Regions from separate parts of the Homo sapiens genome. Here region 2 is linked to region 1. A link means that fine-mapping ties the variant in region 1 to the expression of a gene that starts in the linked region. Tissue or cell type: whole blood. Region 1 holds a variant in brackets; the other region holds the start of a gene. All regions are shown on one strand. Distances are between the middles of the regions.

What was found. PIP is the estimated chance that this variant, and not a neighbour inherited with it, causes the effect.
Region 2: TRAF1 starts here. The variant in region 1 is fine-mapped to the expression of TRAF1 in whole blood (TOPMed, PIP above 0.99).

The regions. Positions count from the first base shown.
Region 1 is chr9:120,882,505-120,890,608 of GRCh38, forward strand. It overlaps a transcript of PHF19 not described here. Among named protein-coding and RNA genes, the nearest start is that of PHF19, 9.4 kb to the left of the region's middle. The variant G/A (reference allele first, on the strand shown) is at 4,821.
Region 2 is chr9:120,922,144-120,930,227 of GRCh38, forward strand. TRAF1 (TNF receptor associated factor 1) reads right to left here and starts at 4,653. Exons shown (of 8, transcript NM_005658.5): 1 at 4,407-4,653; 2 at 3,793-4,158; 3 at 1,562-1,649. The coding sequence starts at 3,932. RefSeq lists enhancers at 3,282-3,805, 3,402-3,471, 3,932-4,271, 4,612-4,931 and a silencer at 6,592-7,181.

The sequences.
Region 1 (8,104 bases):
TTCAGAAATACTTATTTGAATACCAAACAAGTTAGCCTATATGAAAGTGCTCTACAGCCAGGCACAGTGGCTCATGCCTGTAATCCCAGCACTTTGAGAGGCTGAGGTGGGCGGATCACCTGAGGTCCGGAGTTCAAGACCAGCCTGGCCAACATGATGAAACCCCATCTTTACTAAAAATACAAAAATTAGTCGTGCATGGTGGCGGCCACCTGTAATCCCAGCTACTTGGGAGGCTGAGGCAGGAGAATCTCTTGAGCCCAGAAGGCGTAGGTTGCAGTGAGCCGATATTGTGCCATTGCACTCCAGCCTGGGTGACAAGAGCAAAACTCCATCTCAAAAAAAAAAAAAAAAAGAAAGAAACTGCTCTACACACAAGAGGCTTTTCACAAATATGAATAATTATTATTACATAATTTTTGGAAGTAATTATTATGCAGGTGACCAGTTAGACGAGCCCATGTTTTATGGCCTGAATTTCGGGGTTGGTTTATCATGTCCTCAGCATGGAGGTGTAGAGAGTTTTCAGATTACAGTAGAAAGCACGGTTATTAACACCAGTTTTAAAAAAAATGGTTGCCAGGGTCAGACTGTGACCTGTTGGCATGCCTGTGGCCTTGGTTAGCTGCCAAACTATAAACACCTTTACCTGTGGCTTTTGTGGGGAAATGAGAGAAGTCTGCCTGCCTTCTCTGTGAACCCAGGGGGTGTAGAAAAGAAAGGGGAGCCTTCACCAGACACTGGAGATCCTATTTCCCTGCCTTGCCAGCTTGCTGTGGAACCAAGGATCCCTTCCCTTGTCTAAATTTTAGTCTCCCCATCTGTTAAAGATAAAGTGGTGGTTTGTTCACCCTTTCAACATAGTGCACATGTGTAGCGAACCATGCTGTAGGCAGGCACCATGCTAGGAATGACAGGCGTGGCATGAAGATGAATAAGATGCAGCCTTTGATCTCAGGAAGCTCCCGGTCCAGCCGGGCACGGTGGCTCATGCCTGAAATCCCAGCACTTTGGGAGGCTGAGGTGGGTGAATTGCCTGAGCTCCGGAGTTCGAGCCCAGCCTGGGCAACTTGGTGAAATCCCATCTCTACCAAAAATACAAAGAATTAGCTGGGCATGGTGGCATGCACCTGTGGTCCTAGCTACTTGGGAGCCTGAGGTGGGAGGATCACTTGAGCCTGGAGGCAGAGGTTGCAGTGAGCTGAGATCACACCGTGCACTCCAGCAGCCTGGGTGACAGAACAAGACACTGTCTCCAAAAAAAAAAAAAAAAAAAATAGAAGCTCCTGGTCCAGAGCTAGGGGGTGGGGCTAGGGGGACAGACAGATTGATAGATAATTGTGGGAGGGTGTCGAGACAAGGAGTGATCAGGACAAGGAGGGTCAGACCACAATGACCTCTAAGTTGCCTCTGATGGCAAAATTATTTGATTCTATGAACTCAGTCTAAGCTTTGTTTCTCCCTCACTCGGTAACCTAGGATGGGTCACTTCTCTAATCAGGGCTTCAGATGGACTCACTGGTCAATATATGAAGTCTAGAACAAATGAGTTGCTCCCAGTCATTCTTTATAAAGGTTGTTATATAAAGATTTGACCCACCAAAAGCTGCATTGACTATTTGCGAGATATTTTGTCTTCTTGTTTTTTATCAATTAGGTCTACATACTACATTCAATTAGAGATTTTGATTGATATGATTAAAACAGTGTGATCATAAAAGACTGACTCAGATATAGTTAATTAAAGATACCTTTAAAGTTTTCCCCACGTTAAAATACAGAGGTGTCATTTTATTAATGAACTCCAGTATTTACAAGGCATCCTTTCTGGAATCAAGCAATCCATGAGTCGATCCGCGTGAGGTGGATGAGCTCCTGGCCCCAAGCTGGGTGTGTAGGAGAAAGAGGAAATGTATGAGATGAGAGCTGCTCCCCGGGAGCCAAGGCTCTTGCTGGGCATTTCATGAAGGAGACAAGATATAACCAACTGCCCAAGATATAGCCAGAGGAGAGCAAATAAGAAGATAGTGGATACAACAGGGTCATTTGTATGATTCAACTAGTATTGGTGGAACTGAGGTTTGAACCCAGGTGATATGGTGTATTCAAAAGCTAATGCCAGTCTGGGCACGGTGGCTCACACCTGTAATGCCAGCACTTTGGGAGGCTGAGGTGGGCGGATCACCAGAGGCCAGGAGTTTGAGACCAGCCTGGCCAACATGGTGAAACCAGATCTCTACCAAAAAATACAAAAAAAAAAAAAAAAATTAGCTGGATGTGGTGGTACACGCCTATGATCCCAGCTACTCCAGAGGCCGAGGCATGAGAATCACTTCAACCCTGGAGGCAGAAGTTGCAGTGAGTTCAGATAGCACCACTGCACTCTGGCCTAGGAGCGAGACTCTGTCTAAAAAAATAAAAATAAAAATTAAAAAAAGCCAATACCAGCCACTCATGTAAATCCCAACTACTTAGGAGGTTGAGGTGGGAGAATCATTTGAGGCCAGGAGTTCAAGACCAGCCTGGGCAACATAGCAAGACCACATCTCTAAAAATAAAAATAAATTAGCTGGGGTGGTGACATGCACCTGCAGCGCCAACTACTCAGGAGGCTGAAGTAGGAGGATTGCTTGAACCCAGAAGTTCGAGGATGCAGTAAGCTATGATTACATCACTGCACTCCAGTCTGAGCAACAGAGTGAGACCCTGTGTCTTAATGGAGGGAACCTTCCAAGTCAAGTTTTCCAACTTCTCATTTTCAGATGGGGAAACGGATATCTAGAAAGCAGGAGAGGTTCGGCGCAGTGGTTCACGCCTGTAATCCTAGCACTTTGGGAGGCCGAGGCGGGCAGATCATGAGGTCAAAAGTTTGAGACCAGCCTGGCCAACATGGTGAAACCTCGTCTCTACTAAAAGTACAAAAATGAGCTGGGCATGGTGATGTGCGCCTGTAATCCCAGCTACTGGGAATGCTGAGGCAGGAGAATGGCTTGAACCCAGGAGGCGGAGGTTGCAGTGAGCCGATATCATGCCACTGCACTCCAGCCTGGGTGACAGAGCAAGACTCTATCTTGGAAAAAAAAAAAAAAAAACAAAGCAGGAGAGGTCTGGCCAAAGTCCTGCAGGAAAGACGCATTCAAGATGAAGTAGTAAATCAGCACATGAGCCATAAGTGGGTCCAGGCCTCTGCCCCTCCCTTGCCCAGAGATGTATGCCATGCCACTTTTGTCAGGTCCCCAGCAGTCCTCTTGAGTTTTTTAATTGCCAAAATTTATTTTAAAATCCTTCTGTTTGAGTGTTCCATGACATGTGACCTTCTTATGAGTTTCAGAGGTAATCCCTGCCTGGGTGGAGGAATACCTAAGTGACCTTCAGGACCTCTTTCAGCTTGGAGAAGCGGAAATTCTGTTGCCAGAATTCCATGGCTCTTTAAAGCTAATCTTCACTCTTTTACAGCTCTCAGAAGGAACTCTCACGTCTGGCCTTTCTCTGTTGTCTGTTCTGCTCCCTGATCTTCGGCTTAAGTTGGGGCAATAGTTCCAAGAGGTTTAGCTGGGACCATTCAGATCTGTGTCTTATAGCTGCTTCTTCCAAGATTACAATTCAAAGTCCCAGATGCCTCCCCCTGCAGAGGAGAGGAAACATCTGGGCTGGAGCTGCACGGAGAGAGCCCAGCTGTGTGGGACATCCCTCAGGGTAGGAGCCTGTGAGCTGAGAGCTCTTCATTGCAGATGTGGTTCTAACCATCGGGGTCTGGGTCTCACCCATGAGGCTTCGACAGGCCCCAGGCATGTGTGTGCAGGGAATCTGAACAGTCAGCCTGCAGGAAAGAGGCTCTGGGGAGTTATATGTGGCTGGTGTGGTGGCAAGTAGAGTTTGTATGGACACCGAACCAAAATAGAGAAATGCGAAGGCAGCTAGACAGAAAGTGGGTGGGGGGAAGCATTCCAAGGAACAGACCTCTGCAGCAAGGAGCTTGGTCTGTGCAGGTCACAGGGAAAGCAAAGAAAAACATAGGCTCAAACCACGAGTCATTTATTCACTCATCCTTCACGGCTAACCACAGCATTTAGCCATGCACTCCTGGTGTGACTATGGAGATCCCTTCCACAGCCAGATGACCCAATGTCAGCTGGAGTGTTTCCCACTCCAACGGCTGGTTCATCCAGCCTGTAGTCACCGCCCTCTGGCAGAGGCACCACTCTGGGCTGACCCCTCTGTGATGGTCAATTTTATATGTCCACATGACTAAGCTATCATACCTAGTTATTTAATCCAACATCAATCTAGGTGTCGCTGTCAAGGCATCTTAGAGATGTGGTTAACATTTATCATCAGTTGACTTTAAGAAAAATTCCCTCGAGACCAGCCTGGCCAGTATGGTGAAACCCTGTCTCTACTAAAAATACAAAAAAATTAGCCGGGTGTGATTGCACACACCTATACAGCTACCCGGGAGGCTGAGGCAGGAGAATTGCTTGAACCTGGGAGATGGAGGTTGCAATGAGGCGAGATCGCCCCACTGCACTCCAGCCTAGGTGACAGAGCCAGACTCTGTCTAAAAAAAAAAAAAGAAAAGAAAAGAAAAGAAAAAAGAAAATTACCCTCGATAGAGTGAGTAGGCCACAGCCAATCAGTGGAAGGCCTTAAGAGTAAAAACAGGTTTCTGGCTGGGTGCGGTGGCTCACATCTATAATCCCAGCTCTTTGGGAGGCCAAGGTGGGCGGATCACCTGAGGTCAGGATTTCAAGACCAGCCTGGCCAACATGGTGAAATCCTGTCTCTACTAAAAATGCAAAATTAGCCAGTCGTGGTGGCGC[G/A]TGCCTGTAATCCCAGCTACTTGCGAGGCTGAGGCAGGAGAATCGCTTGAACCTGGGAGGCGGAGGTTGCAGTGAGCCGAGATCACGCCATTGCACTCCAGCCTGGGCAACAGAGTGAAACTCCATCTCAAAAACAAAAACAAAAACTGAGGTTTCCTGGAGAAAAGATTCTGTCTGAAGACTCAAGCATCAATTCCTGCTGAGTCGCCAGCCTGCTGGCCTGCCCTATAGATTTTGGACTTGCCAGCTCCCACAATCATGCAAATTAATTTCTTAAATACATCTGTTTATGAACAAACACACACACACACACACACACACACACACAGACACACACACACACACACACACAGATGGTCCCTGAATGATGATGGTATGCCTTATGATTTTTTGGCTTTACGATGGTGCAAAAGCTATATGCATTCAGTAGAAATCATACTATGATATTTGGTAGGTTAGGTATATTAAATGCATCTTCCACTTACGGTATTGGAGAAGCCCCATCGTAAGTGGACAAGCATCTGTATACATACCTAGTGTATCTCCCATTGGTTCTGCTTCTCCAGGGACTGACCGACCCACCTTCCTTCACAGTCCTTGAGAACGGAGCTCGTCCCCTGAGCACCTAATGACACGCGTGCACGTCTCTTGATTCCTTGTCCTCTTGCAAGTCCCCACACGTCTGTCGCCCAGACTGGAGTGCAGTCGCACGATCTCAGCTCACTGCAACCTCTGCCTCCCAGGTTCAAGCGATTCTCCTGCCTCAGCCTCCCAAGTAGCTGGGACTACAGGCATGCGCCACCACTCCTGGATAATTTTTGTATTTTTTTAGTAGAGAGGGGGGTTTCACCATGTTGGTCAGGCTGGTCTTGAACTCCTGACCTCAAATGATCTGCCCATCTCGGCCTCCCAAAGTGCTGGGATTACAGGTTTGAGCCACCGCGCCTGGCCCAGCCTCCTTCTTCACACTCATGACCCTTAAAAGGCTAGAAGCTCCCAGATGGGAATGGAATTGCAGGGAGAACAAGCTTGGTGGCAGCTCGAAGAGCTGAGAGGTGTGGAACCCAGCACTGAGCCGTGAACTTATGTCTGCCTTTCAGGATGCAGGCAGCAACCTGGACAACTGGGTCTATCTGCTGTGATAATTCTCAGGCCTTGGCAAGAGAGGCTATGCCAATATTTTCATGGCACCCAAAAATGGTTTTCCTGGGAAGAAACTCCTTGGTCAGTGTCCACAGCACCAGGGGAGGTGGCTATTTCCTGCCATCTCTGTAAACAGGATGGAGACCAAGGGCCTTGTATCAGTTGGAATTCTTGATTATGAGCAACCAGGACCAACTCTGTCCATCCAAAGCAAAAGGGGGACTTTCTGGAGGGTACTGAAGGTACACAGAATGAACAAGAGGCTGGAGAACAGGCTTGGACAAAGGGCAGGACCAAGAGAGGAATTCTGGCCAAGGGAAGGCTGCAGGCACAGTCTGATCCAGGGTTCTCTACTGTGGGTGAGTGATCTCCAAGGGTCCCCTCACCACTCACTCAAGAGTCAGCCCCAAGAATGATTATCTGATTGGCTAGTGTTGCATTTTCCATGTGCCTGTCCACTAGCCAGGCAGGATAAGATGCCATGGAAGGATTTAGCTCCACTAGGATTTCACAGTGATGGTGGCCTTGGGAGGTGGGTGCTAGTTTTATCCTTCCTCAAAATGGGGAGCTCCTCCAAAAAGGAACCAGAATTTTAAGGTGGGGGTGGATGCTGGACAGATCATAAGTGACAGCTAAACCTCTTGGAGCTATTGCCCACCTTAGGCCAATAACAGATGAGGCCAGGCGCGATGGCACACGCTTGTAATCCCAGCACTTTAGGAGGCTGAGGCGGGCGGATCACGAGGTCAGGAGTTTGAGACCAGCCTTGCCAACATGGTGAAATCTCGTCTCCATTAAAAATACAAAAATTAGCTGGGCATGGTGGCAGGCGCCTGTAGTCCCTGCTACTCGGGAAGCTGAGGCAGAAGAATCACTTGAACCTGGGAGGCGGAGGTTGCAGTGAGCTGAGATCATGCCATTGTACTCTGGCCTGGGCGACAGAGCAAGTCTCCATCTCAAAAAAAAAAAAAAAAAAGGACCAAGGTAGCCTGGGCGCAGTGACTCATGCCTGTAATTCCAGCACAGGAATTGGGAAGCCGAGGTAGGAAGATCCTTTGAGCCTGGGAGTTCAAGGCCAGCCTGGGCCACATGGCGAAACCCTGCCTCTACGAAAAATTAAAAAATTAGCCTGGTGTGGTGGCAGGCGCCTGTAGTCCCAGCTACTCAGGAGGCTGAGTTGGGAGGATCAATTGAGCCTGGGAGGTTGAGGCTGCCTTCAGTGAGCCATGATTGTGCCACTGCACTCTGGCCTGGGTGACAGAGCAAGACCCTGTCTTGAAAAAAAGAAAGAGAGAGAGAGAGAAAGAAAGAAAAGAGAAAGAAGAAAGGAAGAAAGAAAGAAAGAGAAAGAAAAAAGAGAAAAAGAAAAAGAAAGAACTAACAAGAAAGAAAGAGAGGAAGGAAGGAAAGAGTGGACAGGCTCTAGGATCTGGACTGGACTTGGACTTAGAATCTGGACTTGGACAACCTAAGGTCAGGTTCTGCCATGTATTAAGCAATGTGGATAATAATGGCACCCACAGCTCACAAAATTGCATGTGAAAACACTTTGTAAACTATAAAGTATTTTGAGCCCTGGAGGGCAGTGGGATGGGACCATCATGCCTCAGGCAGCTTCTCATCTCAGTGCCCAGTTCAAGACCTGGCACCCAGTAAATGTCCCATAAGTGTTTGCTGAGTGAATAGATAAACAAGTGATTATCATCATCCTTTTAACTTGATCTCAGCTTTGCAGAATAAAAACAGGCAGATGCTGTTGGACCCTGATTCAGGTTTTGTGAGCTGAGGCCTCACAAATGAGCCTGCTTTTTTTTTTTTTTTTTTTTTTCCTGTTAACGCTTTTGACGTTTTCATTTTAATATGTGAAACCTGGCTACTTGTCTCAGGGAGAGTTTATGGAAAAAAAGCTTCCAGCTGGCTTTGGGCAGCCCATAAAAATGTACTGAAATGTCTAACTTTGACCAGTTAGAAATTAGGAGCTGTTGGGGGATGCAGGCCGGTGACGCCACTCGCCCTGGTGAGGCCACTGAATTTCAGTAATTAGCTCTCTGGGCAGGAGGACTCGCTCCTAATTCCTTCCTGGTTCCGAGTCAAAGGATGAGGCCCTGAATCTGTTAAAGAGAAACCACAGCTTTCAGATA
Region 2 (8,084 bases), 40 kb after region 1:
AGCAACGAGACTCCTCTGCAGGTCTCAGGGCCCCGTGTGTAAACAAGAGGATTTGATTTTGAGCAGTGACTCCTGCCTGTTTGGATTCGTGGACCAATACGAGTGTGTTTTTTTTTAAATTGAGAGATTAACAAAGAGATTGTCATCTTTTTAATTTTACTTAGCAAAGGCTTTGCCAAAAACTATCATCTACGATTACATCCTTTCATTTATATAAAGACATGCATAGGACAGACGCAATCTCAGAGTAAAAGTTTGGTTTTATAAATGGAAAGAATTTAGTTTACATAAACTGATTTATAGAATTGCCTTATTTTTATCATTTTGTCATGAGCTGGTGGGAATGGATCAGTTCTGGATAGCATGTGGGAACCTCTGAGCAGGACATGTAACCTATGAGGGTCCTTCCAGCTTGGGAGGGCCAGGGTTCTAAATTGTAGCTCCTGAAAATGTCTCTCTGGCCTATCACACTTCCAAATGTGTCTCTTATTCCTAGAAGCACCGTTTGACAGAGCTCAGGACGTGAGCTGATAATGGTCTCTCCCCACCTAAAGGCAAACAGAGGCAGACAGAACCATCTAGATGAGGAGTTTGCTAACCTTTTTTATGTAAAGGGGTGGATAGTAAATATTTTGGGCTATGAAGTCTTTGTTGCAAGTACTCAATTTTATATAATTTTCATGTGTCCCAAAATATCTTTTTTTGTTTTTTTGAGACAGGGTCTCATTCTGCTACCCAGGCTGGAGTGTAGTGGCACGATCATGGTTCACTGCAGCCTCGACCTCCCCAGGCTCAGGCGACTCTCCTACCTCAGCCTCCAGACTAACTGGGACTACAGGCATGTGCCACCATGCCAGGTTAGTTTTTATATTTTTTGTAAACATGTGGTTTCATCATGTTGCCCAGGCTAGTATCAAACTCCTGGGCTCAAGCTCTCCGCCCACCTCGGCCTCCCAAAGTGTTAGAATTACAGGCATGTAATTCTATGTAATTTGAATTCTAACACTTCAGAATTACAGGCATGTTTGTCATTTACCAAGGGGTTTATATTTGTTATTATAAGAACTTTTTTGATTATTATTGATTGGGGCTCATAACAATTCTGTGATGCAGAAAACAGTTTTACAGACAAGCAAGCTGTGGCTTGAGAACATTAGCAGTGCAGCAGGCCACACAGTGAGAGAGTGGCCTCACAGCCTCGAGAATTACAGGTCATTATGCATGGCCTATCATTCTTCTGATTTTTTCAACCATTTGAAAATATAAAAACCACTCTTAGCTCGTTGCTTAGGTGGTGGGCCAGAATGTGGCCCATGAACCGTAGTTTGTGGACCCCTGGTCTGGACTGTTCTCACTCTAAGTCTATTGCCAGGTAGCTTTAGGCAAGACACTTCACCACTGTGAACATCAGTCTCCTTATTCCTTATAAAGCAAATTCAGTCTGGACTCAGGACTAGTTGGGAGGTGCCTGCCAGGGGTGGAGTGGGCAGCTGTCTACTTGGCTTCAACCTGGAAAAATCAAGACAACGGACAAATGCCTTTCTGTGATGTGCCAACGTACCTTCTCCTGAGTTCGAAGACGGCTTCCTGGGCTTATAGACTGGAGGTCTTCCCCTCTGCATTTGGGGCAGATCTGATCCTCGCCATTCCTGGGGAAACATGGACAAAGCCTTGGAGAGAGGCACTACAGCTCCCTGCACCATCCACTCTCCTGACAGCTCCAGAAGCCTCAACTATCAGCAGGGTGGTGATCATGTACGTCCACAATCCCAGAGCCACAGTTCCTAAATCGCAAAACTGCCGAGTATCCCACATTTTTTGGTAGTTTGCAGTGAGCTTCCTGGGCTGCCAAACCTGCCGTGACTGCACTGACCGGAAGCTATTATAGCCCTTACTTGCCCCACTTAGTGTGAATATATACATGTTTCATTGCAGAAACATTAATGTGCTTGATTACAGGGCACTGCCGCATTCCCTGCCACAATTACATGATGCCCTGATTTGCTTTTCTAAAAAAAATTCTGAATTACAAAACACATCTGATCTCAGGGGTTTAGGCAAAAGATTGCTGACATGTGACTATATTTGCTCTTCTCATTTGGTCCTCCATTTGGTTTTGGTCTTATATGTTTAGTAATTACAGAGGATCATGGCCTATTAGAACAAGAAAGGGCCTCAGAGAACATCTGTCCTAGAGGTTCTTAATCAGGAATGGGTGTCAGATTCTAATGGGTAACACCTGGGTACCCGTGGGTTTTTTGTCTGTTTTTTGGGGGTTTTTCTTTTTTTGAGACAGGGTCTTACTCTGTAGCCCAGGCTGGAGTGCAGTGGTGCGATCTCAGCTCACTGCAACCTCTGCCTCCCAGGTTCAAGTGATTCTCATGCCTTAGCCTCCCAAGTAGCTGGGATTACAGGTGCACACCACCACACCCAGCTAATTCTTGTATTTTTAGTAGAGATGAGGTTTCACCTTGTTGGCCAGGCTGGTCTCAAACTCCTGACCTCAAGTGATCCTCCTGCCTCGGCCTGCCAAAGTGCTGGGATTACAGGCATGAGCCACTGCGCCTGGCCAGCAACTGTGTTTTTACAAAGCTCCTGGTGTCTCTGACCTGCTACCGCTACCGAGATAGTCTATTTTACAAGTGAGGGAATGAGGCCCCAGAGGGCATGTGGATTGGTCAAGGTAGAGTGAGTCAGGAGCAGAGCTGAGTAGAAGCTCTTCAGGACTTAGGCCTCAGGCCTCAGCCCTCCAACTTCCAATCAGCTCCCTCCTCTGCCAGGTTTTGGAAGGAGGGAGAGGGGAAACCAGGAGACCCACTACCAGAGCCTGAGCTGAACCCTGACAATCCGCTTGATGGTAAAACCAGTGAACCTCTGCTCCTCCACCTCCTGGCTGGCCTTTCCACGGCCACAGCCTCTCCTCGCTATTCTCACAGCCTCCTCCTTTGTCGTCATGTTTGAACTTCTCACTTGCCTGATTCAGCTTTGCCACCTTCTTAAGCTGTAAAACCGCAAACAAAAGGTCATCACATGAGATAGTTTAAGGGCATATTTGCCAGGAAACTGACCAAAGCTGACCTAATCTGTTAGGCCTCAGTGTTCTCATTTGTAAAATAGGATCATAATAGTATCCACCCCTCTAAGTTGTGCTGAGGACCCAAGGGCAGAGCATTTGGCACACAGTAGGTGCATAATTGCTTAAAGAGGGATGTCCACAATAGTACTGATATCATGCCTTTCTGGGTTGTTAATATTTTAAGTATCATTAAATACACAAATATATATCGATCTCTTTGTCCCCTCCAAAAGGGTTCCCAGCAAACGGTCTGAGGTGATGAGCAATGCTGTGGAAGGAGAGATATTCGTCTAACAGTTTGTCATTCACCAAGAGGTTTATATTTGTTATTATAAGGACTTTTGTGATTATTATTCATTGGGCTTCATTAACAATTCTATGACACAGAAAACAGCTTTACAGACAAGCGAGCTGCGGCTTAGGGACATTAGCAGAGCACCAGACCACACAGTGAGACAGTGGCCTCACAGCCTCGAGGCTCTCCTCGGTGTGGATGGCTTTCCCCTGTGGGAGCTGATGCCTTTCTGTGGCTTCCTCTCCTTCCACCACAGCCAGAGGGGCAGTGTCAGGGAGTGTGAGAAAAGGGTGTGGAAACTGAGGCCCAGAGAAGAAAAGTCACCGCCTGAAGTCACAGGCTCCTCTGCCCCTCACCTCCCATCAGGGGTCCCTCCCTGGCACCCACTTTCTGCCCACCCTCCGCTCCTCCATCACCTCACCTCGGGTTCTCAGAGAGACAGCCTGCACAGCAGAGAGCCCTGGGCTCCTTTGGGTCCTGGCAGACGGTGGGAGGGCACCCAAAGGGAAACTCATTCTCATCAGGGGCCGGGCGAGGACTGCTGCCTGAGCTGGAGGCCATCTCAGGGTTCCAGGCTGGCCAGAGGGCCTGTTTAAGTTGCTCCAGGGCAGGGGACCAGCCTTGTGGAGTCCTGGCCTGGGCCTCACTCTCTGGTGAGTAGGAGCTCTGATGACTTTATCTTCTTCTCTCTGGCTTGTGTGGTTCAACGTCACAGCTGAGTCACAGCAGGGATGGAGCAGGAATTACCCTTTGTGGCGATAAAAATCCCCTGGATGGTGACTGAAGGCTTTAGGAGTGTCCAGTCATTTTTTTTTTTTTTTAGAGTGAGAAAAAGCAAGAGAGCAAGTCAGAGAAAATGACCCGTGTCACAGACTCTCAGAAAGCACAGTGAGAGTTCCCCTGGTTGAGAATCGCAGGCTGCCGCTGGCTTCCCCCACTTCCCTGGGCACATCGGAGGAGGGGGCCACAGCTGGTCCCTGGTCTGTGTTCCCTGGCACCTCTGAGCAGCCTGGAATTCTCAGTGGGGGTGCTCACCTTCCTGGTGGAAATCCCCAGGGTGTTGGAGACAGGTCCAAAATTTCAAGTTCTAGGCGCTTTTGCTCTGCTCTGTTTGGAGTGTCTGGGTGACCTCAAGGAGAAGTCACTTCCTCACAGTGGGTTCTGATGACTCCATCTGTAAAAAAGAAGTTGCAACAGGTGGCCTCTGGGCTGTAAGATTCTGGGACCCTATCTTGCCTGGGACTGAGGCAACCAGAAGGAGCAGGAAAGCCCTGATGAAATCCAAGGCCTAGGACCACAGACTCCTCAGGGCCCTCCCCACACCACCCCACTCAGGAAGTCATAGGTGGCTACATGCTCCGGTCAGGTGCCACCACTTTACTGCCTCAAGGAGAACAAAGCGCTAAACAAATGCAAGATCACAGCAGCTGGTCTCAGCATCCAAGTGGGATGTAGATCCACATTTGCAGGAAAAGTGCACTGGGGAAACGATGGCTCCCAGAATGTGTACTGTGTGCTGGGCAACAGTTTCCCTCCAAATCCTTACAGCAACCTGCAAGGAATTCTTCTGCAGCTGTATATAGGGTCAGAGAAGCAAGATGCCTGGTCCAAAGGCACACAGCCTCTGGTAGTGGAGTGGGATTCACACCAGGGCTGTGGGGCCCCAAGCTCTGTGTGCTTGGGATGGAGATCAGAGTACCCAGCTCTTGTCTCATCTATCAAATGGAGAAGACAATCCCTACACATCTTTCCATCCTGCTTGGCTGCTACAGAGGTTTTGCAAACTTTCACAGTGGTTTCAGATCATGGGTTTTGAGGTCAGACAGAGCTGAGTTGAAATCCTGGGTCCACTGCTTACTAACTGTGGGCCCTGGGACAAAGTCCTTAACTTCCCTGAAACTCAGATTCTGCATCTGTAAAATGGGACAATAATACCTATTTCACCCATTTGTTGTGATGACTAAATGAGATAGTGGGTCAAAGTGTGGTGTGTAACCCAAGTGAAGTACTTGAATGACATTTGGCTCAGATGGTGACTACAGGCCTTCCAGCTCCTCAGAGAAAAGGATTAAAGTGGTGCATTATGCTTATACTGTGCTTTCACGTCTATCTACTGGAGCCTCAACAGGTGGGCAGGGCAGGTCATCTGGCCTGAGATACATTAAACTGCCCACCTGCCCTGGTGTAACACCAGGGCTGCCACAGGCTGGTGGCAAAGACAGCACGGCATCTTACCGCCACAATGTACATCAGGACCTCCACCCCCATAACAAACGACCTCCAGGCCTGCATCAAGACTATCAGAAGACACTCCCTTTTAACTGTGTACCCCATACCTGCAAGCTTTCCTGCAGCCAGCCCTACCTGTTCCCTCCTTCCCCTGGTTTGGGATAAAACAGGCACCCAAGACTTCTCTCCCCATCTGTGGGTCCCTTCTCTCCCCTCCGGCCTCAATACCACCCTCTCTACCTGCTCATTCCCACGGACATCAAAACGTGCGCAACCTGCTCTAATAAGAAAAGGGAAAAATAGTACTACTTTTGGGTACCGTCTTACGTAATTTTACAGACATCATCTCATCTAATTTTCACTCTGTGAAGCAGGTATTGCCATCATCATCCCCACCTTACAGATGAGAAAACTGAGGCACAGAGAGGCTAAGCGACTTGTTCAAGGTCTCACAGCTAGTGAGTGGGGACCCCTGAACCCAGAGCCAGTCCTGTAACCACGCACGCTTTTAAAACACTCTTTATTCTCGTCTCCAATTTCTACATCTACTCTCGCCTCACCTAACGGTAGAACTTCTAGAAAAGATTGTCTATACAGGCACTTGGATCTCCAGGGAATCATCTCTCCAAGTGTATACGCATGTCGGGGACGCCAAATGCCCTGGGCCCGCCCCAGTTTCTATCCAACCAGCCCTCCTGCCAGCACCTGACCCGGCTCTCAGCCCTTCCTTCCGGAATCCCTTCCTTTCCCCGGCTTCCCGCATCCTCTGCGGGGAATTCCCCCCGCGTCTCTGGTGGCTCCTTATCCGTCTCCTTGACCCCTTTCTCTTCTACACTGGGCCTCCATCGGCTCCATCCACGAGGAGTCTCTCTGCGCCGCGTGTCCCCATCTCCCACTCGTCCTTTGGGGCGCCCCTGCACCAGACCCCACTCCCACGGGAAGTCTCCGTGGGCCGCCCCATGATGAGGCTGGGCGCCCCGCTCTGTGATTCCTCGCGCCTGCCGGCGCCAGCACAGCCCCCGCCGCCCGGCTCTGCAGGCTGAGCCCCCAGCCAGGTCGGTGAGCCCGCCCGAGGGCGGGGGAGTGTCGCGTCGCCACCTCCACATATCCAGTTGCGAGGGCAGCGCTGGGAGCCAGGCAGCGCCGGTGCCCGCGGAAAGAGGAATGAGCCCCTGCGGGGCCGGGGCGCCCGCGGCTGGGCTGGGGGCAGTTGAGTCCGGGGCGGTCTCTGCAGCCGAGGTGCCAGGTCCCCGGCTGCACCCGAGGAGTCCCCGCCTCAGCAAGCGGGAGCTGGAGCGGGGAGTTCGGGGCGAGGAAGGGGGCCGGGGAGCCGCCCTGCGGTCCCGGGGCAGGGGTGTAGGGCAGCCAACCTCGGCGCCGCCTCCGCCACCGCCTACCGGCGGCCAGGCCCGGAGCTTCCGGTGGAGTGTGAAGGACGCAGCCGCACCGGCGGAAACCGGCAAGGCAGGGCCGGGGCCCGGGGCTGCTGCTCCCCAGACCGCCGCGGGGCGGGGCGAGCGATCCCTGTGAGGGGAAACTGAGTCTGAGGGCCGGGTCTGCGGCGCCACGGGCACTGTGCGCCCAGTTAACTGACACGCGTGTACGCAGCTCCTCCGCTTGCGGGGCTCCTGGCATCTGGTGCAGCACCTGCGCGTGTTTAGTGCTCAGTAAGATGCCCCCTGAAAAAACAAACACAAACCGGGAATTGGAGCCCCCACCCTGGTCCCCTGCCTGCCCAAAATCCGAGTAGTGAGAAGGTGAAGAGGAGTAAAACCGCAGTCTTACCTTTCTTGGATTTCTCCAGAAGATCCTAGCACAGTGCCAGGCTCGCCCAAGCTTATTGGGTTGGAGCAATCAAGTGATAGTACTTGATAGTACTTGATCAAAATGATAGTACTAAGTGGTTCAAGGCACTGTGCTTTTACAAACTGGATATTTTAAGGAACCGTTTCTGTTTTCGTCTAAACACACACACACACGGTCGCTAAATCCTTAAGAATATATTAATCAAAATAGTTATGGAACTTAGTGTTGGGGTAGAATTTTAGATTAAAAGCTACACCTTTATTTTTGCGAACTACCAATTTGACAAGGGCTCCTTCTCTGTCAGATGTCTTAACCTTGTAGGACTGATGGTGGAGGGAGGGATGAAGCTGCCCACCTTGTTGGTTTGGTTTTAACAGCTCAAAATCTCTTTATGTGTTAGGGTCTTTTTTTTTTTGAGATGGAGTTTGGCTCTTGTCACCCAGGCTGGAGTGCAATGGCCCAATCGCGGCTCACTGCAACCTCTGCCTCCCGGGTTCAAGTGATTCTCCTGTTTCAGCCTCCTGAGTAGCTGGGCCCACCACCACGCCCACGACCACGCCTGGCTAATTTTTGTATTTTTAGTAGAGACGGGGGTCTCACCACGTTGGCTAGGCTGATCTCGATCTCCTGACTTCAGGTGATCCTCCCACCTCGGCCTCCCAAAGTGCTGGGATTACA